3 linked regions of the Homo sapiens genome follow. The protein of the gene in region 1 interacts with the protein of each later gene in a biochemical or structural test. Each region holds a gene or a part of one and is shown on either strand. Other genes may lie near its edges. The genes, in order: PAFAH1B1, NDE1 and KATNB1.

Region 1 (7,109 bases):
TGTATTTTTACACTTTTGTTCTTTTTAATATGATTAGAAAGTAGAAGGGTTATTATGGTGAGGAAATGAGTAAGGTTGGGAATGATAATTCACTGTATTATGTGTCTGACATATCCCTATTCCTACTGTTTGTAGAATATCAAAGCACACTAAGGTCCAGGTGCAGTGGTTCACGCCTGTAATCTCAGCACTTTGGGAGGCCGAGGCAGGTGGATCACCTGAGGTCAGGAGTTCGAGACCAGACTGACCAATATGGTGAAACCCCGTCTCTACTAAAAATACAAAAAAATTAGCCATGTCTTGTGCCATGCGCCTGTAATCCCAGCTGCTGGGGAGGCTGAGACAGGAGAATAGATTGAACCCGGGAGGCGGAGGTTGCAGTGAGCCGAGATCGTGCCACTGTACTCCAGCCTGGGCGACAGAGCAAGACTCTGTCAAAAACAAACAAACAAAACCCCACACACTGAGTGGTGATTTTTCAGTAGATTGTTGTTAATCAGGAGCTTAAGATAATTTGACTTAAGGAGCTTTAGTTCCAAGTGTATGTAGTGTTTCTTGATACATGTTGGAGAATCTTAGGCTTAATTTGGAGATTAATTTTTAAAATTATTCATAGTTCTGTATAGAACTCTTAATGAGATTGGAAGGAATTTTTTAGTACAATTTTTTGTTACCTGTTTTTCCAGATAAAATATCTCTAGTGTAAAGAGATTTTGAGATGTTTCTGGGAAGGAAAAGTCAGAATCATAATTTATGCTTTTCTAGCTAGAACATCCGTGTCTTTTTTTTTTTTTTTTTTTTTTTTTGAGGGGAAGTCTTGCTCTGTTGCCCAGGCTAGAGTGCAGTGGGGTGATCTCAGCTCACTGCAACCTCTGCCTTCTGGGTTCAAGCGATTCTCCTGTCTCAGCCTCTTGAGTAGTTGGGATTACAGGTGCCTGCCACTACACCTGGCTAATTTTTGTATTTTTAGTAGAGATGGAGTTTCACCATGTTGGTCAGGTTGGTCTGGAACTCCTGACCTCGTGATCCGCCCGCCTCTGCCTCTCAAAGTTCTGGAATTACAGATGTGAGCCACCACACCCTTCCCTATTTTCTATTTTTTAAAAATAATATAAATGTTTCTCTCTCAGTTGTATACTAAGTAACAGAGAGACAGAAAGTGTGTGTGTGTGTGTGTCTGTCTGTCTGTCTGCGTATATGAGACTTTATGGCTTATATTTTAAGTATCCAGCAAAAATAAGACCCTCTTGTTTACATGTGGTTCATGTTATTCATAATTTGTCATCTTTGTGAATAAGTCATGGATGCTATAGAAATTGTCAACATTAAGATGAAGATGTCTGGCCAGACATGGTGGCTCACACTTACACTCCCAGAACTTTGGGAGGCCGAGGCGGGTGGATCACCTGAGGTCAGGAGTTCAAGACCAGCATGGCCAACATGGTGAAACCCCGTCTCTACTAAAAATACAAAAAAATTAGCCGGGCATGGTGGCGCACACCTGTAGTTCCAGCTACTGGGGAGACTAAGGCAGGAGAATTGCTTGAACCCGGGAGGTGGAGGTTGCAATGAGCCGAGATCGCACCATTACGCTCCAGCCTGGGCAACAAGAGCGAAACTCCATCTCAAAAAATAAATAAATAAATAAAAATAAGATGAAGATGTCTTAAAAAACCCAAAGCAAAATATTAGGGCAGAGTGAATTTTCAATATCTTCCCATTGAGTTCTAAAGCAGTGAGTCATGCGCTCTTTTGCCAAAGGGACTTGAGGCTCGGTTGGTTTTAAACCAAGCTGGCCATTTCTGCTTGTGGTCCTAAAATATTTTTTACTTGCCTCTAAGTCCCTGTTAACGAAAATATTTCATTATGACAGGTAACTTATTTTTATGTGCTTTGGAAAGAGGGAAATAGTTAAGTTTTGAAGTGGAAATTCTTTGCCACTGTTTTTATTATGTCATCTACAGTACAACTATTACTTTTTTTTTTTTTTTACTTAGAAAGTTGTTCTATTTAAAATAAAACTAGTGGTATACAATACGAGTTCTGAAAAAAAGACAGACCTACCGTTCTCCAGAAGATGCTTAGCTGTAAATTGAATCCTCGTCATTGAAGGTCAAACATTTTGAGAAATCTGTATTTCATGAAGAAAGATGCTGTATTATGTAAGCGTAATAGTTAACTGCAGTGAAGGCTTTTTGGATTGTTCTTTGTTGCTGGTTTGGCATGGCACTTTTTGGCTAGTCATTGAAATGGAACCTTAGTTTAACTTCTGTTACATATGTAATTTTTAACCTTGGCATGGCAGTCATAGAATTTAATTGATATTTATGAAATGCTTTATATTCATTGGTGGCAGGCATCATAAGCACTTATTATTTTATTTCTTGTTTTCTTTTTAAAAGATGGTGGCTTCTTGTTGAAACTTACCTAGATAGGACTAATCTGCATTTGTCAAGGATACTTCTGGAATGGTACTCTCTATTGTCTTTTAACATTGTCATAAACGTTTCTCTAGAACTTTCTAAATATTGAGCTTGGTACTGATTTTCATTTGTTCTTCTGCCAGCTACTTTTTGAGGTAGATTGGTATTTTTATGGATGAGAGAACTGAAATCCAGAGAATTTCTTTTCCTGTCGAATGTTAGGTTAGTGACTAGAATAAGGTAAATATTGCAGTCACAGAACTCTTGGGTACTGCTTTGTAAAATCACACATTCCTTCTTTCTATAACGATTGGACTCCTTAATCTTTGTTAAATGGTGAAAGTTGGTGGTATTTATTGCCTGCATCATTTAAATTGGCATTTATTAACATATGGTCTTGTATTGTTGACTGCTTTGCATGCATAAGGCTTTTGGCATTTGAGTAGCTTCTCCCAAAAAATGCCTAATACTGCTTTACAGATAGTATTAATAAGTGAATAAGTACTAGTTGCATTTGACTGAATGGTTATGTGAAAGGAAATGTGCTATCCTAAAGATCTTTGTAATAGTTGACTCCGGTGATCTCAAGAGAATTAAGGTGATGGAGGAAAGAGTGGCTGCATTTCGTATACAGAGATTTTATATTCTCTGAGGGAACAGGGTTACACTTTGACAGAATTCTTAAGTATAAAAAGTGAATTAACTCAACTGGACAAATTACCTATACATTTTGATTATCTGCTTTTGGGGCTCTTATGTTGACAAGAATTGACAGTTAACTGAGGCCATTAAAAAATTTTCTGAGACTTTTTACAAAAGTAAAATTAAGAATCTTTGAACATTTTAATAAATTTAATTTTTGAAAGCATTGTAGAAAGTTATATGTTTATTAAAATTTTACAGTGCAGATTAATCCATTTTTAACCTTTTTTTTTTTTTTTTTTTTTTTTTGAGGTAAGAGTCTCACTCCATCACCCAGGCTGGAGTGCAGTGTCTCGATCTCAGCTCACTGCAACCTCCACCTCCTGGGTTCAAACGATTCTTCTGCCTCAGTCTCCCGAGTAGCTGGGACCACAGGCACATACCACCACAGACAGCTAATTTTTGTATTTTTACTAAAGAACTCCTGGCCTCAAGTGATCCACCCGAGTTGGCCTCCCAAAGTGCTGGGATTACAGGTGTGAGCCACCACACCCAGCCCAATCCATTTTTAATCTAAGGTAAAGATAGAAGAGTTTGTTTTATGGGTTGGGCACTGTGGTTCATGCCTGTAATCCCAGGACTTTGGGAGGCCAAGGCGGGCAGAAGGTGATCAGGAGTTCCAGACCAGCCTGGCCAATGTGGTGAAACCCTGTCTCTACTAAAAATACAAAAATTAGCCAGGTGTGGTGGTGGGTGCCTGTAATCCCAGCTACTTGGGAGGCTGAGACAGGAGAATTGCTTGAACCCGGGAGGCGGAGGTTGCAGTGAGCCGAGATCGTGCCATTGCGCTCCAGCCTGGGCAACAAGAGTGAAACTATCTCAAAAAAAAAAAAAAAAAACCAAAAAAAGAAAGAATATGTTCTATGATATACTAGTGTTTTATCTATTTCTTTTCATATTTTTATTTTATAAAAAATATGCTAACTACAAAAGAAAGAAGATGGAGATAAATGAGTCAGATGTTTTGATTATTTAGTATTTTGGTTAAGTTTTTCTTTTTGAGACGGACTCTCGCTGTGTTGCCCAGACTGTAGTACAGTGGCGCGATCTCGGCTCACTGCAACCTCCGCCTCCTGGGTTCAAGCGATTCTCCTGCTTTAGCCTCCCTAGTAATAGCTGGAATTACAGGCATGTGCCACCACACCTGGCTAATTTTTTATTTTTAGTAGAGATGGGGTTTCGCCATATTGGCCAGGCTGATCTCGAACTCCTGACCTCAGGTGATCTACCCACTTCAGTGTCTGAAAGTGCTAGGATTATAGGCATGAGCTATCATGCCTGGCCTTGGTTAACTTTTTATGGGTGAGGAAAGGCTATACATTTAGCATTGTCAGAGAAAATGAAATAAGCTGTTGACTAAACTCATACATGAATATTTATTTATTATTTATTTATTTATTTTTCAAGACTGAGTCTCGTTCTTGTCGCCCAGGCTGGAGTGCAGTGTTGCGATCTTGGCTCACTGCAGCCTCCGCCTTTTGGGTTCAAGTGATTTTCCTGCCTCAGCCTTCTGAATAGCTGGGATTACAGGCATCTGTTACCCTGCCCAGTGAAGTTTTTTGTATTTTTAATAGAGATGGGGGGTCTCTGTTGGCCAGGCTGGTCTCGAACTCCTGACCTCGTGATCTGCCCACCTTGGCCTCCCAAAGTGCTAGGAGTACAGGCATGAGCCACCGTGCCCAGCCACACCTGGCTAATTTTTGTTTTTTGAGATGGAGTCTCCCAATCTTGTTGCCCAGGCTGGAGTGCAATGGCATGATCTTGGCTTACTTCAACCTCTGCCTCCTGGATTCAAGCAATTCTCCTGCCTCAGCCTCCCGAGTAGCTGAGATTACAGGTGCCTGCCGGCATACCTGGCTCATATTTCTATTTTTAGGAGAGATGGAGTATCACCATGTTGGTCAGGCAGGCCTTGAACTCCTGACCTCAGGTGATCCTCCTGCCTCGGCCCCGCAAAGTGCTGGGATTACAGGCATGCACCACGGCGCCCGGCCTAATTTTTCTATTTTCTGTAAGAGGTGAGGTCTTGCCATGTTGCCCAGGCCAGTCTCAAACTCCTAGCCTAAGCAAACTGCCTCAAGCCATCTGCTCACCTTTACCTCCCAATGTGCTGGGATTACAGGCATGAGCCACTGCTCTCAGCCTAAGAAAAAATATTTTTAAAGTTGACAAATGTAGAAATGAGCTAAGATTTGTCAAAGGGATCAATAAGTAATGAAATATTCTGGTTATCAAAGTTTATCATATATGAATGAACAGTGAAAAAATTGGAAATAACAGAATTAACAAATTTTAATTTGTCTTTAATGGTTCAGCAGTCACTTAAAAATTTTTACAGTATTACCATGATGCTATAGTCTTTATCATCACAAATCCCAACGTAAAGATAAAAAAAAACCCCACTTAATAAAATCATTATTCAAGCTTTCTGGCTCTTCGACTTGGGCTAAATAAGTGTTCTGTATAATGGTATGTCCTTAAAGAGAAATTATCTCCACCTACTGAAAAAAAAAACAAAACAGCGAGGGCCTATCAATTTGAGAGTTTAAACAGGCCTGTGGTTCGCATTTTTATGGAAGCATCATAATACAACCCCAAGACATCAAATGTCACTAGCACAGAAGACATCTAGGATCCAAAGTTCTTAGAAGAATATTACTTTTAAAAACATTAGAAATAATACTTTACGTGGGACTCAACCTTGACTCTTCTTTCTTCCTCTATATCCAATCAATTACCTTGTCTTGCCAATTTTACCTCCTCGATATTTGTTGAGTTAGTCCCCTTCTATCCATACTTACCATTACTACTACTACCATCATAGTTCACATAATCTCTTACCCAACTAATTTCACATCGTCTCTCTAAATTCAGTCTTGTCCGGTTAACGTCTTTCTGCTACATAGTCCCCAGTCATCTATCTAAAATGCAATCTGACCATATCACACTTCCCTACTTAAAAAGAACCCTCCCTTGGCTCCCTTTGTATTTATTTAACAAATATTTACATAGCACTTACTAATACGCCAGGCTCTGTTTTAAGTGCTTTACAAGTATTCGTTTACTCCTCACAACATTCTGGGAGAATTTAGCTAGCCCTTTGTGACAGCTTTGTAAGTAGCAGAGCTGAAAGTTGAACCTCAGGTACTGAGGCTCCACAGTTGGGGCTTTCAGCCACCGTACTGTGCTGACTCCCTCTTTCCTATAGTCCACATACTTTAACACAGTTTGCTAGGTCTTCAGTCACTTCAAGTTTCATTTCTAATCAAGCCCCACCTTGCTCACACTCTAATATATATATGCTTTCTCCCTCCCCACTTTGTGATCTTTGTGATTCTACTCCTGCTGTCCTCTCTGTCTAGAGCAACTTGTAGTATCTCAGAACAGAGTGCAGTGAATACATTTTGACAAAAGAATGATTTTTTTTTTTGAGACAGGGTCTGGCTCTGTTGCCCAGGCTGGAGTGCAGTGGCTAACTACAACTCTGCAAATCCTGGGCTCAAGCAGTCTTCTTGCCTCAGCCTCCTGAGTAGCTGGGTCTACAGGCCCGCGCCACCATGCCTGGGTAATTTTTGTATTTTTCAAAATACAGGCCAGGCGCGGTGGCTCACGCCTGTAATCCCAGCACTTGGGGAGGCCGAGGCAGGTGGATCACCTGAGGTCAGGAGTTCGAGACCAGCCTGGCTAACATGGTGAAACCCCGTCTCTACTAAAAATAAAAAAATTAGCTGAGCGTGGTGGTAGATGCCTGTAATCCCAGCTACTTGGGAGGCTGAGGCAGGAGAATTGCTTGAACCCAGGAGGCAGAAGTTGCAGTGAGTTGAGATTGCACCACTGTACTCCAGCCTGGGCAAAAAGAGCAAAACTTTTGTCTCAAGGAAAAAAAAAAGTATGTATATATGTATACACACACACATTTTTGTTTTTATTCAATTTCATAAGAAGGGGGAAAATCTTGATTGACATTGGGTAATTTGAAATTTT
Region 2 (7,109 bases), on another chromosome or scaffold:
TTGCCTAGGCTGGTCTCAAATTCCTGGGCTCAAGCGATCCTCCTGCCTTGTACTCCCAAAGCACTAGGATTCTAGGTGTGAGCCACCACACCCAGCAAGAAAGCAGACTTCTATTAACAGTTGGGCTAACGGTTTGTATACTCCCTGTTGATAGAGGCTGTTTGATGTAATCACCTATTTTCTGAATTTATTTGAGGCTCTGAGCTTGTCAAAAGGGCATGAGGAATCCAAGTAAGATTGTGTCCAGGCCAGACTCAGTGGCTCGCATCTGTAATCCCAGCACTTTGGGAGGCCGAGGCGGGCAGATCACAAGGTCAGGAGTTTGAGACCAGCCTGGCCAATATGGTGAAACCCCATCTCTACTAAAAATACAAAAATTAGGCGGGCGCAGTGGCAGGTACCTGTAGTCCCAGCTACTCAGGCGGCTAAGGCAGGAGAATTGCTTGAACCCAGGAGGTGGAGGTTGCAATGAGCTGAGATCGTGCCACTGCACTCCAGCCTGAGTGACAGAGCGAGACTCCGTCTCAAAAAAAAAAAAAAAAAAGATTGTGTCCAAGGCCGGGCGCAGTGGCTCACACCTGTAATCCCAGTACTTTGGGAGGCCAGGGCAGGTGAATCACCTGAGCTCAGGAGTCTGAAACCAGCCTGGCCAACACACTGAAACCCCATCTCTACTAAAAATATAAAAATTAGCCGGGCATGGTGGTGTGCGCCTGTAATCCCCACTACTCGGGAGGCTGAGGCGGGAGAATCACTTGAACCCAGAAGGCAGAGGTTGTAGTGAGCCGAGATCGCACCACTGCACTCCAGCCTGGGTGACAGAGTGAGACTTCCTCTCAAAAAAAAAAAAAAAAAAAAAAAAAAAAAGATTGTGTGCAAGGTCCCTTCCTTCCCTCAAGAGAACTTAGAGGCTGGTGTGTATCCCTGGGGACAAAAGAATGAGCAAAAACCATCACTTTCTAAGATATAACCAACAAGCTATATAGTTTTGGTTAAAACATGAAATCATTAGGCTAAACATGTAAGTGTCAACACAGACACCACCACTAACTTCTGGTGGAAGTTAGTGAGCCTCACCCATGTTGAGCCAATGACAGAGGTGGGCCTAATTCATGCAGAACCAGGAAATGCACAATTGTACCTAGATTCAAGCACAAAACTTACCGATAACTCTGCATTTGTTGGGACTCATATTCACATCCTTTCTCCCTCCTACTTTTTCAATCCTTTCCCTCATTCAGAGAAAACATGCTATTTCCCGACCCACTCATCCCTCTGGAAAGCAGATTCTCTGAAAGTTTGATCAAGGCAGAAAGGCGAAATGTCATACAAAGCTGGCCAGACGTGGTGGCTCATGCCTGTAATCTCAACACTTTGGGAAGCTGAGGCAGGCAGATGACTTGAGGTCAAGAGTTCAAGACAAGCTTGGCCAACATGGTAAAATCCTGTCTACACTAAAAGCACAAAAATTAGCTGGGTGTGGTGGCAGGCACCTATGATCCCAACTACTCGGGAGGCTAAGGCATGAGAATCGCTTGAACCCGGGAGCCAGAGGTTGCAGTGAACCACGATCACACCACTGCACTCCAGCCTGGGCAACAGAGCAAGACTCCATTTCAAAAACATATAAACAAAAAATAAATAAATGTCATATAAAGCTAATGATTTGTAGTTTTGCTTGTTTTTTCCAGACATGCATTCATTTTTCCATCTTCTGTGACAGCACAATATTCCCTTGGGAGAATACCCTACTCATTTCATGAGTTCAGAGGGATCTGACATCATCCTCCACACCTGGGAAGAGGCATATGCCTATTCACGACCTTAGTGATCAGCTCATGGGTGGGCCTAACCCACGATGAGCCAGTGACAGAGGTGGGCCTAATTCACGCAGAGCCAATGATAGGGTGAGCCTAACCCCCATGCTCAGCCAGTGACAGTCACGGATCTAACCCATGCTGAGCCAATGATTGGCTTAAGGATGGGCCTAACCCATACTAAGCCAGTGAGGGCCCAGGTCCAGACCTTTTGCATAGCTGTCAAAAATGAAACTCTCTTTCCACTAGGGTTGGTAAGGTAAGCCTGAAGCTGGAGGTAAGCCTGAAGCCGGAGGTAAGCCTGAAACTGCCGGTGGTCATCTTGCTATCACAAGGGAGAGCCTGCCTCAGAGTGAAGCCAAAACAGAGGAAAGCTGGGCCAAGGGATGGAGAGCCTGGGTCCTGACAATATCATTTGAACACCTAGATGCAGCCACACCTGATTTAAGGTTATGAGATAATCAATTCCTTGTCTTGGTTATACCAGTTGGGGTTAGATTTCTGCCACGCAGGAATCTTAATGAATGTATGGAATCAACGACCTTACTTGCTCAAAGTCAAAAGGGTAGAGTGGTGCCTGGCGCAATGGCTCATGCCTGTAATCCCAGCCCTTTGTGAGGCCGAGGCAGACAGATCACTTGAGGTCAGGAGTTTGAGACCAGCCTGGGCAACATGGTGAAACCCCGTGTCTACTAAAAAAACAAAAACAAAAATCAAACGGGCACGGCGGTGCGTGCCTGTAGTCCCAGCTACTCAGAAGGATGAAGCAGGAAAAATCACTTAAGCCTGAGAAGCGGAGGCTGCAGTGAGCCAAGATCACTGCATTCCAGCCTCCCAGCCTGGGCGACAGAACAAGACCCCATCTCAAAAAAATAAAAAGGGGGTAGAGTGTTAATAGCAGTCATTAACAAGGCCAGGAGCAGCATAAACCTAGGCCAAGGAGTCCCTGCTCAAGCCATAAGCTCTAATGAGCCCAGATCTCATGTAATATGTACTCATCAAACCAATTCTATAGCAACAATAGCCCAGGGCCAAGGCATCTATCAATGAGCACTGTGTGGCCATTAAGATATTGGTGGCTGGGTGCGTTGGCTCATGCCTGTAATCCCAACACTTTGGGAAGCCAAGGCGGGTGGTTCACCTGAGGTCAGGAGTTCAAGACCAGCCTGGCCAACATGGTGAAACTCCATTTCCACTAAAAATACAAGAAATTAGCCAGGTGTGGTGGCAGGCTCCTGTAACCCCAGCTACTCGGAAGACTGAGGCAGGAAAATCGCTTGAACCCAGGAGGCGGAGGTTGCAGTGAGCCAAGATCACGCCATTGCACTCCAACCTGGACGACAAGAGTGAAACTCTGCCTCAAAAAAAAAAAACAAAAAAAGACATTGGTGATACTATTGAGGGCAGTCTCAGTCCCATGGTATGGAAGGTTGTCAGCATACAATAAAGTGCGGAAGTGAGGAACCAGTAACAACAAAAGCAGAATGACTCCTCCTGAGGTTTGGAAAAAGATGTGCAAGATCCAATGTGATCAGGCCCCTGCATAGTTTTCTACACATTTCTTACCCTACCACCTCTCATTCACTTATGTCCCAGCCACACTGCCTTCTTTCTCTTCCTTGAACACCCAAGCCTGGCAGGGTGCTGTGGCTCATGCCTGTAATCCTGATACTTTGGGAGGCCACAGCGGGTAGATCACTTGAAGCCAGGAGTTCGAGACCAGCCTGGCCAACATGGTAAAACCCCATCTCTGCTAAAAATACAAAAATTAGCTGGGCATGGTGGCACATGCCTGTAATCCCATCTACTCAGGAGGCTGAAACAGAAGAAACTCTTGAACCCGGGAGGTGGAGGTTCCAGTGAGCAGAGATCCTGCCACTGCACTCCAGCCTGGGTGACAGAGCAAGACTCCATCTCAAAAAAAGAAAAGAGTAATAATAATAATAATAATAATAAAAGAAAAGAGCCTCTTAAAACACTGTTATCTTGGCCAGGAAGGTTTAAAAACTTAATCCTCAGGAAAGAAATGAATCTGAGATGCTTTAGGAGGTGCGTCTATTGTGGGGCAGGTTCTAATTACAACGGGCCAATGGGAGGGATCTGGTTTTGGATTTCAAGGACTGAGGAGAAAATAAGCAGAGAACTGGATTTGTATCACAGCCTGCAAAATCTTTCACTCCAACCAAGAGACAAAAACCACAGGAACAGCATTTCAACCAAAAACTCTTACATTTTAAAAGCAATCCTTAGGGAAGAGAGATGCTGGAAGCAAAGAAGGAAGAAGTAACAGCTGCACTTCACTTTATCATAAAACAGCAATCTTTTTTTTTCTTTTTCTTTATTATTATTATACTTTAAGTTTTAGGGTACATGTGCACAATGTGCAGGTTAGTTACATATGTATACATGTGCCATGCTGGTGTGCTGCACCCACTAACTCGTCATCTAGCATTAGGTATATCTCCCAATGCTATCCCTCCCCCCTCCCCCCACCCCACAACAGTCCCCAGAGTGTGATGTTCCCCTTCCTGTGTCCATGTGTTCTCGTTGTTCAATTCCCACCTATGAGTGAGAATATGCGGTGTTTGGTTTTTTGTTCTTGCAATAGTTTACTGAGAATGATGATTTCCAATTTCATCCATGTCCCTACAAAGGACATGAACTCATCATTTTTTATGGCTGCATAGTATTCCATGGTGTATATGTGCCACGTTTTCTTAATCCAGTCTATCATTGCTGGACATTTGGGTTGGTTCCAAGTCTTTGCTATTGTGAATAATGCCGCAATAAACATACGTGTGCATGTGTCTTTATAGAAGCATGATTTATAGTCCTTTGGGTATATACCCAGTAATGCGATGGCTGGGTCAAATGGTATTTCCAGTTCTAGATCCCTGAGGAATCACCACACTGACTTCTACAATGGTTGAACTAGTTTACAGTCCCACCAACAGTGTAAAAGTGTTCCTATTTCTCCACATCCTTAAAAGTATAAGATTTTTGCCTTTGCCATTCAAAAATGTCAGAGAGAGGCCGGGCACGATGGCTCACGCCTGTAATCCCAGCACTTTGGCAGACTGAGGTGGGCAGATTGCTTGAGCCCAGGAGTTTGAGACCAGCACAAGGTGAACCCCGTCTCTACTAAAAATACACAAATCAGCAGGGCGTCACGATGCACGCCTGTAGTCCCAGCACTTTGGGAGGCTGAGGTGGGTGGATTGCTTGAGCCCAGGGGTTCAAGACCAGCCTGGGCAACATGGTGAAACCCTGTCTCTACTAGAAACACAAAAATTAGCCAGGTGTGGTAGAGCGCACCTATAATTCCAGCTACTTGGGTGGCTGAGGCCCAAGAATTGCTTGAACCCAGAGGCAGAGGTTGCAGTGAGCAGAAATTGTACCACTGCACTCCAGCCTGGGCACAAGAGCAAGACTCTGTCTCAAAAAATAAATAAATAAACAACATGAAAACGTCAGAAAGTTCTATTGCAGTACTCTCTGTGGCAGAAAGCAGGCAACATGACTTGCAAGGGTTCTCTTATTTTATCAGCATTAAGTACTGAATTTGACCTTCTGTTTGCTGTGTGCTAGACATTTCAAAAATTGTTTGCAAACATTATCTTCTTTAAGCTGTGTGACTGTAAGAGATGGCTAAACAGGACAACCACTCTGTTTCTTGGAAGCAGAAACACCGTATGCCTTGGCCATCTCTAAATGTGCATGTGAGCAGCAGAGGCAAACTAGATCCAAGTTCAAGGGATCTTTGCATTCAAGTCCAAGGCTTCCCAGGGGTTGCAAACTGACTGACTGCAGATCAGATTCACTTGTTTCATTTGGTCCAGTTTTGTTTTTTTTTTTTTTGTTTTTTTTTTTTTTGAGTCGGAATCTCTTTCTCTGTTGCCCAGGCTGGAGTGCAGTGGTGTGATCTCAGCTCACTGCAACCTCTGCCTCGCAGCTTCAAGCGATTCTCCTACCTCAGCGTCCCTAGTACCTCGGATTACAGGTGCATGCCACCACGACTGGCTAATTTTTTGTATTTTTAGGAGAGACGGGGTTTCGCCACGTTGGCCAGGCTGGTCTCGATCTCCTGACCTCAGGTGATCTGCCCACCTAGGCCTCCCAAAGTGCTGGGATTACAGGTGTGAGCCATTGCACCCGGCCCTCACATAGTGTTTTAAAAGGCACTGTAATAGGCAAGTGTTAATGCCTGGTCTCAGTATATACAACTTTGCACCTGCTATCTTAAAAATGCACCCCACATGCATTTATTTCATCTGTGTGCCACTAACCTGCGTTCTTAATACGCCACCACACCATCATGCCCCAGCAGCTCTGTAGACAAATCTGATGGGATCATGCAAGGAACAATGACAAACTAGGACCCAGTGGTACAAAAAGTATCTATTTTGCACAACAGAGATCTATGCCTCCTTCAAAAATTTGTTTCCGGCCGGGTGTGGTGGCTCATGCCTGTAATCCCAGCACTTTGGGAGGGTGAGGCAGGCAGATCACCTGAGGTCAGCAGATAAGAGACCAGCCTGGGCAACATGGTGAAACCCCATCTCTACCAAAAACACAAAAAAATTAGCCAGGTGTGGTGATGCACACCTGTGGTCCCAGCTACTCAGGAGGCTGAGGTGGGAGGATCACTTGAGCATGGGAGGCGGTGGTTGCAGTGAGCCGAGATCGCCCCACAGCACTCCAGCCTGTGTGACAGAGCGAGAACCCGTCTCAAAAAAAAAAAATTGTTTCCACATGCTTTTTTTTTTTTTGCATGTTTTACATGATTAAAGCTAACAAAAAAGTCTGAAAATACACTCGAGACACACACCTCTGATTTTAAAACTCTGGAAAAAAGCAAAGCAATCTCTTTCAGCTTTCCTCTGAGAGAAGAAACCCAGCACTGCTAGTCAGGAGCAATAAACATACAGAAACCATCGATAATTACTCAACACCCTTCTCCATCCCCACTCCATATCCTTCCCAATCAAAACAAACAGAAGAGCAGGAGGGAAGAGAAAGAAGCTGCCAAATGTCCACACATGCTCCGACAGCCAGGACGCAGGCTTTGCATTTTGCAGGAGTGACATCACTGGGGCAACATCAGTCAAGAGTCAGCAAGCCTGGCTTCTGTCTTTGTGCTTTCCAAGTTTACAATGATCAACCTACAAAAATACTTAGGCAGGCAAGGACCCATGTTCAAAGATGCACACCATCATTCACGAATGTGGAAAACTGGAAACCTCAATGTCAACAGAGGACTGAATGGAAAACGATGCAGTTGTTAAGAACTGT
Region 3 (7,109 bases), on another chromosome or scaffold:
TCCCTTCGACAGCTGGCCTTTCCCCAGAGCTAGGCACTGGGGAGCCACTGGGGGACAAAGTAGTCAAGGTCTCTGTACAGCGGGAGCTCAGAGCCTGGGGAGAGCAACAGGCAGGAACTGGATAACCGTATCCCTCTGTGTCTCCTCTAGTTGCAAGCTGGTGCCTGTGCTTTGAATCAGTTAGCTGGGGGGTAGGGGTAGGGGTGGGGTGGGAATGCTGCAGGCTGCATGAACAGCAAGTGCAAAGGCCCTGAGGCAGGAGGCTCAGTGTATTGGAAGGACTCAAGGGAGGCCATGGGCAGTGGCACAGCAGCAGGAGGAATGTGGGGCCGCACGGACCTACTGAGTTCTCAGGACCCCAGCCCTCCTGAGGCTGCCGTGCTTTATCATAAAGGCAAGGCCAAGCCATCAGTGTGTGCGAGCAGGAGGTAATGAGATCAGGCGTATTGGGCATCTGCTGCTGCTGCTGATTTCATGTGCACGGTGGTGTCCGTGGGAATCAACTCTGAAGAGCCCAGGGCCACGTGACCTCTGGCTCCTTGTGGCTCCAGGGTCTGGTGAGGATCAGAGGTGCGTGGCCCACATGAGGTCGTTGAAACCTAGTACTTTGTATCTTGCATTTGGGATGCTGATCCTCAGCCCCTCTGGCCACGCCGCACCATGTTCCCCAGCTTTGGCTGGATGTGGGGCCCAGGTTGTACTCCCAGAGCTTGGCCTGCCAGTAGACACTGAGGATTTTTATTTTTTATTTTTGGTATGAAAATCAAGTATTCGGCCTGGGCTGTTGGTTGCTGTCCAACAAGCCAGGATGAAGGAGGAGCTCTTGGGGTGGTGCCCCGTGCCTCCTTTGCAGGTGCCTGTGCTGTGTCCCTGCCCCTCTGCCCTCCCTCTGTGGGCTCCAGTCAGTCCCTGGTCAGGCTGCTTAGAGGGGAGTGATGTGGGCTCCTCCAGAAGGGCCCAACTTCTAAATCTTTCTCACTCCAAAGTCTGCGGTTTTGCCAGCTCAGTGTCCCGCCCCCACCACCATCTGATTATACTGGGGCATATTTCGTGCAAGGCCTAGAACAGGCACCCAGGAAATACTGATATTATGAATGAATGCCCCTGACTCCAGGGGCAGCAGTCCTGAGGCCCAGTGAGGTGGGGCCCAGCCAGACACTTTCCCTGGGAGGAGTGAGGGCCAGGGGACAGACAGAGCCCTCCAGGTAGGCCAGGGGGAGCGAGCAGTGCCTCCACGGAGAGGACACCAGGCTCGGGCACGGAATGCCAGGGAGAAGGTGCTTTGCCCTCTTTCTGGGTCAGGTGGAAACCTTGAACAGACACGTCTGTGGCTGGAATTCCTCAGGTTTCTGTCCCGACAGTGTCCAGAGGACAGAAGGCTCTCATCGAGACGGGACTAAAGTGGGGCCCAGCTCCCTGGGATCCCCATGGCGAACTCCCAGCGCCCTGGCCCAGGTTTGGGCCCACAGGGAACCCTCGCCCTTGCTGGCGCTGCTGCCTGTGCTGGCTCTGCCCCGACCGGCCCAGGAGGCAGGGTGTCATCAGTGAGATTCAGCCTGCGACTTGTCCCCTGGGTATTCCTGGTGGCCCCTTGGAGCCCAGGTTTCTGGCAAGCAGCTTCCCTGGGCCCAGTTTCCCAACCTCCTTGTGGTCTGAAGCCCGCAGCAGAGACACCCAGGCAGGGTGGAGTCGGAGCTGGGGTGCAGGAGGGGCCTCTGTGGAGCGCCGTGGCTCCAACACCCTTTTCCTTGGCGTCACCCACGCTGGCCTTCCGGGTGCCTCGGGGCGTCAGCACCTTGGGGTTTTCCCCTGGCCTGTGTGGGGAGAACTGTCTTTTTTCTCCCTTCTTTCCAGGAGGAGCTCATGCAGGGATGGGTTCTGAGGCCCGGGCCGCCTCTTGGTTCCCTGCCTGTGCTTTGCTCCCTGCGGAGTCCTCCGAGGCTCCTGTCTGCCATCTCCACGGACCAGGCCAGGGCCTTGGGCTGTCTGCACAGGCTCCTCCTCTGTGTGGTCAGCCCTCACCCCCACCCCAGCTGCTCAGTCTGTTGCCTCCTGCCCCCTCCTCATGAAGCCCACCCTCTGGTGCCCGCCCAGGCCCCCATGCCCACTCTCTCATGGTGACTAGCCCCGAGCCTGCCCAATGTCACGGAGCCCTCGCCTGCTACTAAGCAGCACGTAGGCGCGCTCTGAGGGAGTCCTCAGCATCAGGTGTGAGCAGACACCACGGGCATCCCCACTTTCCAGACGAGGAGCCAGGCCCTCAGAGGACAAGTGACCTAGTAGCCAAGGCCACGCAATAGCAGATCACAGACCTCAGACCAGAACCTGATCCGTGATTGTGAATCTGAGCCGAAGCCCTGTGCAGGCTTACCTGGGGGCAGCTTGTCTAGAGGTGACTTCGGTTGTTCTTAAAGTGTGTTCTCCAAAGCAGGGTTTGTATGTACACACAAGCAGCAGCTGAGAGGTGTGTAGGCAGTGCATGGGTCAATTTTTTTTATTTCAATAATTGTTTTTCTTTTTGTATCATAGAAAGAGTATCATGAGTATATCAAACTTGTAATTTCATGGACATTGCTTAAGCCCAAGCTAATAAAAATAGCAAGTCAATTTTAAAAATTGCGTATAACTAGTCAATATTACCAGGTGATATGCAGAAACAGGAAGAAAATCGTGAAGTCTAAAGGTAGGAAAGACAGGCATGATGAAAGTTGAGAAACAGTGATTTCCGTCTCAGGCCCATGCCCTGCCCTGTCTGCTGGTCCTGCAGCTCATGGTGGACACCAAAGGGGGAGCTGAAGGAGGCAGATCCTTCCACTGGGCTTCAGGTTCCAAAGCGGGTAGCCGAGCAGGGTCACCCCTCCTTCACAAGGCCCCATCGGGCCGCCCTGATGGCCTCTCCCTCTCCTTCCCTGTGTAGAAGAGATCGTCGCGCATGCCAGCAACGTGTCCTCACTGGTGCTGGGCAAAGCCTCCGGGCGGCTGCTGGCTACAGGCGGGGATGACTGCCGCGTCAACCTGTGGTCCATCAACAAGCCCAACTGCATCATGGTGAGCCCCGACAGCTGGCGGGGGGTCAGGACAAGGGCCTGGGGAGGGGACGGGGACAGGGGTTGGAGGCTGAAGAGTGAGCAGCTTCTCAGACTCTCTTGAGCCCAGGGCCCCCTATCCGCTGGGGCCCAGCTCAGGGGTGGAGGGGGCGTGGTGGGGACACCATCAGTGCTTCCCCCAGCTGTCTGCTCAGTGAGGCCCAGGACAGCCCAGCATGGCTGGGACAGTGGCCAGCCCTCAGGAGCGAGGGAGTCACCTGCCTGTGGTACTATTAAGAACTCCAGGCAGGCTGCGTGAGAAGATTAAAATAAGCCCTGGGCCTGTGGTTGAGCCAAAAGACTTGTACCCCTCCCCTCCCACCTGCCCATCTGCCTGCCTGGCAGCAACATGTGGGCGTTTATTTTAATTCATTCCCAGCCTTCATTCCCCAATGAGGATTTGAGGGGACCTGGCTGGAGCTGGTTAGGGAGCTAGTTCTTAAATAGCATCTCCCCACTATTTATGCAGCTATATGTTCAATGCTGGAAACTGTTTTCCAAATAGGAGTGCATAAAGGAGAAAACACAAAATTAACTACATATAGTTCCGTTATCCAAAGGCCACCACAGTTGGTGTTTTGGTGTGAGTCCTTCTAGATGCTGAGACAGATACATATACGTGTACATGCACGTAAGTGCACACTTGTACATGCATGTACACATGTATACACACAAATACTCATACAAGCACACACACATAAATAAAAATACACTGCCACTCTTGTGCAGCCTGGTTTTTAAAAATAACAATGTTGTAAGGATTTGCCTGTGTCAACAAGTATTCTTTTACAACATAATTTTGAATGGCTTAATGGTGTTCCATTGTAGGGATGAGCCGTAATTAGCTTAGCCACACCCTGTTATCAGCAGAGAGGTTGTTTCCGGCTTTTTTTGGCTCTGCTAAAGCACCCTGTGGTGAACATCCTCAGCCACCTAGATCCTTGAGCAGATCCGTGATCACTGCATTCAATCCAAGGGTGTGTGCTTTTGTTAAAGCTTTCAAAACAGATTGCCAAATTGCCCCCCAGAAATCATTTTACATTCTCACCAGCAGCATCGGAACCTGCCCTTTCCTCCCTGCCCCAACCCCCATCCCTTGCCAACCAGGGAGTATCATTGTTGTGACTCTTGGTGAAATAAAGATGAAGAGGAATAGGCCGGGCACAGTGGCTCACGCCTGTAATCCCAGCACTTTGGGAAGCTGAGGCGGGTGGATCACCTGAAGTCAGGAGTTTGAGACCGCCCTGGCCAACATGGTGAAATCCTGTCTCTACTAAAAACACAAAAATTAGCCGGGCGTGGTGGCAGGCACCTGTAGTCCCAGCTACTCAGGAGGCTGAGGCAGGAGAATCGCTTGAACCTGGGAGACGGAGGTTGCAGTAAGCCGAGATGGTGCCACTGCACTCCAGGCTGGGTGATAGAGCAAGATTCCATCTCAAAAGAAAAAGAAAAAGAATATGGCAAAGGATGAATTTCTTAGTAGAAACTTAATCACCTCAGTGTTTTTCTGAGATCCAGGGGGAGAACTGAGATCCACCCCAGCCTCAGCAAGGGTGCCAGGGGTCAGTAATGATGAATTGAATTGTTTTGTTTTACTTTGTTTCTAGGATTCAAATGTGTTTTCTACCCCCATGAAATGCCAAAGTAGTAGCATACACAAGTTGAAAAAGCATCACCAATGACTGACCAAAAATAGGACATGCCACGACCCCCAGAGAAACGGGGCCAACCGTCTGGGGCCTGGCCTGCAGGCTTGTTTTAGAACGCCAGGTGCAGCTGTCAGGCCCCAGCCGGCCTCACCCCGGGCCCCTGCCCTGGCTCACACACACCAGCCTCCCAGGCCTCGCAGTGCCTCCAGCCTGCCGGGGTCTCTCTCCCCTTGGGGTTTCTGTGCACGCTGTCCCCCTGCAGGCCGTCCACTTGGATTTATTTTTATTTTTGAGTATGGGATACACTTATTCTGTTCAACATCCAAAAGATAGAGGATCCACAGTGAAAAGTCTTCCACCCTCCTCCAACCGCCACAGCCCTCTCCTTTCCACGGGGATGGGCAGTCAGGGAGAGCCAGGGGTTCTAGAGGGGCGAGATGTGTGCCCAGGACTAGGCAGGCCTTGGTTCCGCTGTGGCTTACCTCGCTGAGGGGCTTGCCTGGGGCAGAGTGAAGATGGGAACAGAGCGGGGGCAGGGTTGCTTAACTTAGGGCTGAAGGGACAGCATCCCTTTATCTTGTCCAGTCGCTCCCCTCCAAGGGGCCCAGGGCCATTTCTGCAGGTGACGCCCATGTCAGAAGCACAGCAGGGAAGAGGGAGGTGGTGGGGGGATGATTGGGGTTTGGCCACTCTTAGCCCTGGGAGCTGAGGCCGAGAGGAGTAGGTGCTCAGAAAGGGCCTGCAGGAGGGCTAGGCTGTGGCCCCCATGGGGCTCCCCCTCCTGCCTTAGCCATTTCTTGCTGAAGCCTTTCCGGGGGACTTGGAATTCAGGGCGCAACTGCAGGGGTCTGTCCAGCAGTGCACGGAAGCTGCTGCTCTCTCTCCACAGAGCCTGACGGGCCACACATCCCCAGTGGAGAGCGTCCGCCTCAACACCCCCGAGGAGCTCATCGTGGCCGGCTCTCAGTCGGGCTCCATCCGTGTCTGGGACCTGGAAGCTGCCAAAAGTAGGCCTCCGAGCTTGCCTCCTGTGCACGCACACCTGCCTTAGTCTTCAGGCTCTGCAGTTGTACTGCTTCCTCCAGGAAGCCTGCCTGGACTACGTTGGCTGCTTTGCTCCTGGAGCACTAACCCGGCAGTGTGGCACCCACTCCACCCCCATTAGCCTGGCATTGACATGCACTGCTGCCTCGTGTGGGTGGGGGGATGTGCGGGTGTGTGTGTGTGTGTGTTTGGATGTATGTGTGTTTGGATGTGTGTGTCTGCGGGCACGTGTGTGTGTGTGTGTGTGTGTGTGTTTAGAACCTAGAGGGATGTCACATGCCGCCAGGGGCCCTGCAGGTCACATGAATGAGTGAGGTGGCTGCGTGGGACAGCCATGAAGAACCGGGGAGCTTGTACCCTGACTCCAGGTGGTCCCCACTCTGCCTTGGCTCCCTGGTGCCATTAGAGGCAGCCTGGAATGGCCAGATCTGTTTCCTTGTGCTCTGTTTTAATTTAGTTTTCATCTGTATAGAAGTTGTACATAGCCTAAAATTTAAAACCTCAAATACCAGTATTTCTACAATTAATTTCAATGGAAAGAGGAAACTTCTGCCCCACTCCTTCCCATTCTCCATGAGCCTAAACTTTCTGTGCTTTCGTCTGTGCTTTGCTGATCGCCTCCACCTTTCTAGACCACATGGTCATACCACAGTTTCTTTCTTTTCTTATTTAAAAAACACCGTGGCCAGGCGCAGTGGCTCACGCCTATAATCCCAGCACTTTGGGAGGCCAAGGCAGGCGGATCACCTGAGGTTGGGAGTTCGAGACCAGCCTGACCAACGTGGAGAAACCCCATCCTGAGGTTGGGAGTTCGAGACCAGCCTGACCAACGTGGAGAAACCCCATCTCTACTAAAAATACAAAATTAGCCGGGTGTGGTGGCACATGTCTGTAATCCCAGCTACTTGGGAGGCTGAGGCAGGAGAATCACCTGAACCCGGGAGGTGGGGGTTGTGGTGAGCCAAGATCGCACCATTGCACTATAGCCTGGGCAACAAGAGCGAAACTCCATCTCAAAAAAAAAAAAAAAAGTTAACACATTAGTTATTCTCTTCCTACTGTAAAGGATGAGAATTTAGCTCTCTCATGGCACCACTCCCAGCCCCATGGCTCGTGTTTCTCCTCCCACCCTCCCAGTAGCACCATTTCAATAGGTGGTGTTTATAATGTAAGGACGCATAAGTGTCATTTACCACTGACTATTTCTTTTTAATAACTTGGTTTCCCTGGAGTTAATAATAGTTCCTTTTTTTTTTTAATCTGTGTGTTTTCTATGTCCATATTACTCATTCATCCCCAAATTCTCTGCCAGAAGAGTAAAGCTCCTCCT

What was found.
Region 2: the proteins of PAFAH1B1 (region 1) and NDE1 form a complex in vitro, tested with the Homo sapiens proteins (one study listed by BioGRID).
Region 3: the proteins of PAFAH1B1 (region 1) and KATNB1 form a complex in vitro, tested with the Homo sapiens proteins (one study listed by BioGRID).

The regions. Positions count from the first base shown.
Region 1 is NC_000017.11:2,596,623-2,603,731, forward strand, and holds part of PAFAH1B1 (platelet-activating factor acetylhydrolase IB subunit beta), read left to right. Parts: intron 1-7,109. UniProt on the Homo sapiens protein: Regulatory subunit (beta subunit) of the cytosolic type I platelet-activating factor (PAF) acetylhydrolase (PAF-AH (I)), an enzyme that catalyzes the hydrolyze of the acetyl group at the sn-2 position of PAF and its analogs and participates in PAF inactivation.
Region 2 is NC_000016.10:15,653,184-15,660,292, reverse strand, and holds part of NDE1 (nuclear distribution protein nudE homolog 1), read right to left. Parts: intron 1-7,109. UniProt on the Homo sapiens protein: Required for centrosome duplication and formation and function of the mitotic spindle. Essential for the development of the cerebral cortex.
Region 3 is NC_000016.10:57,738,770-57,745,878, forward strand, and holds part of KATNB1 (katanin p80 WD40 repeat-containing subunit B1), read left to right. Parts: intron 1-2,917; coding exon 2,918-3,048; intron 3,049-5,624; coding exon 5,625-5,742; intron 5,743-7,109.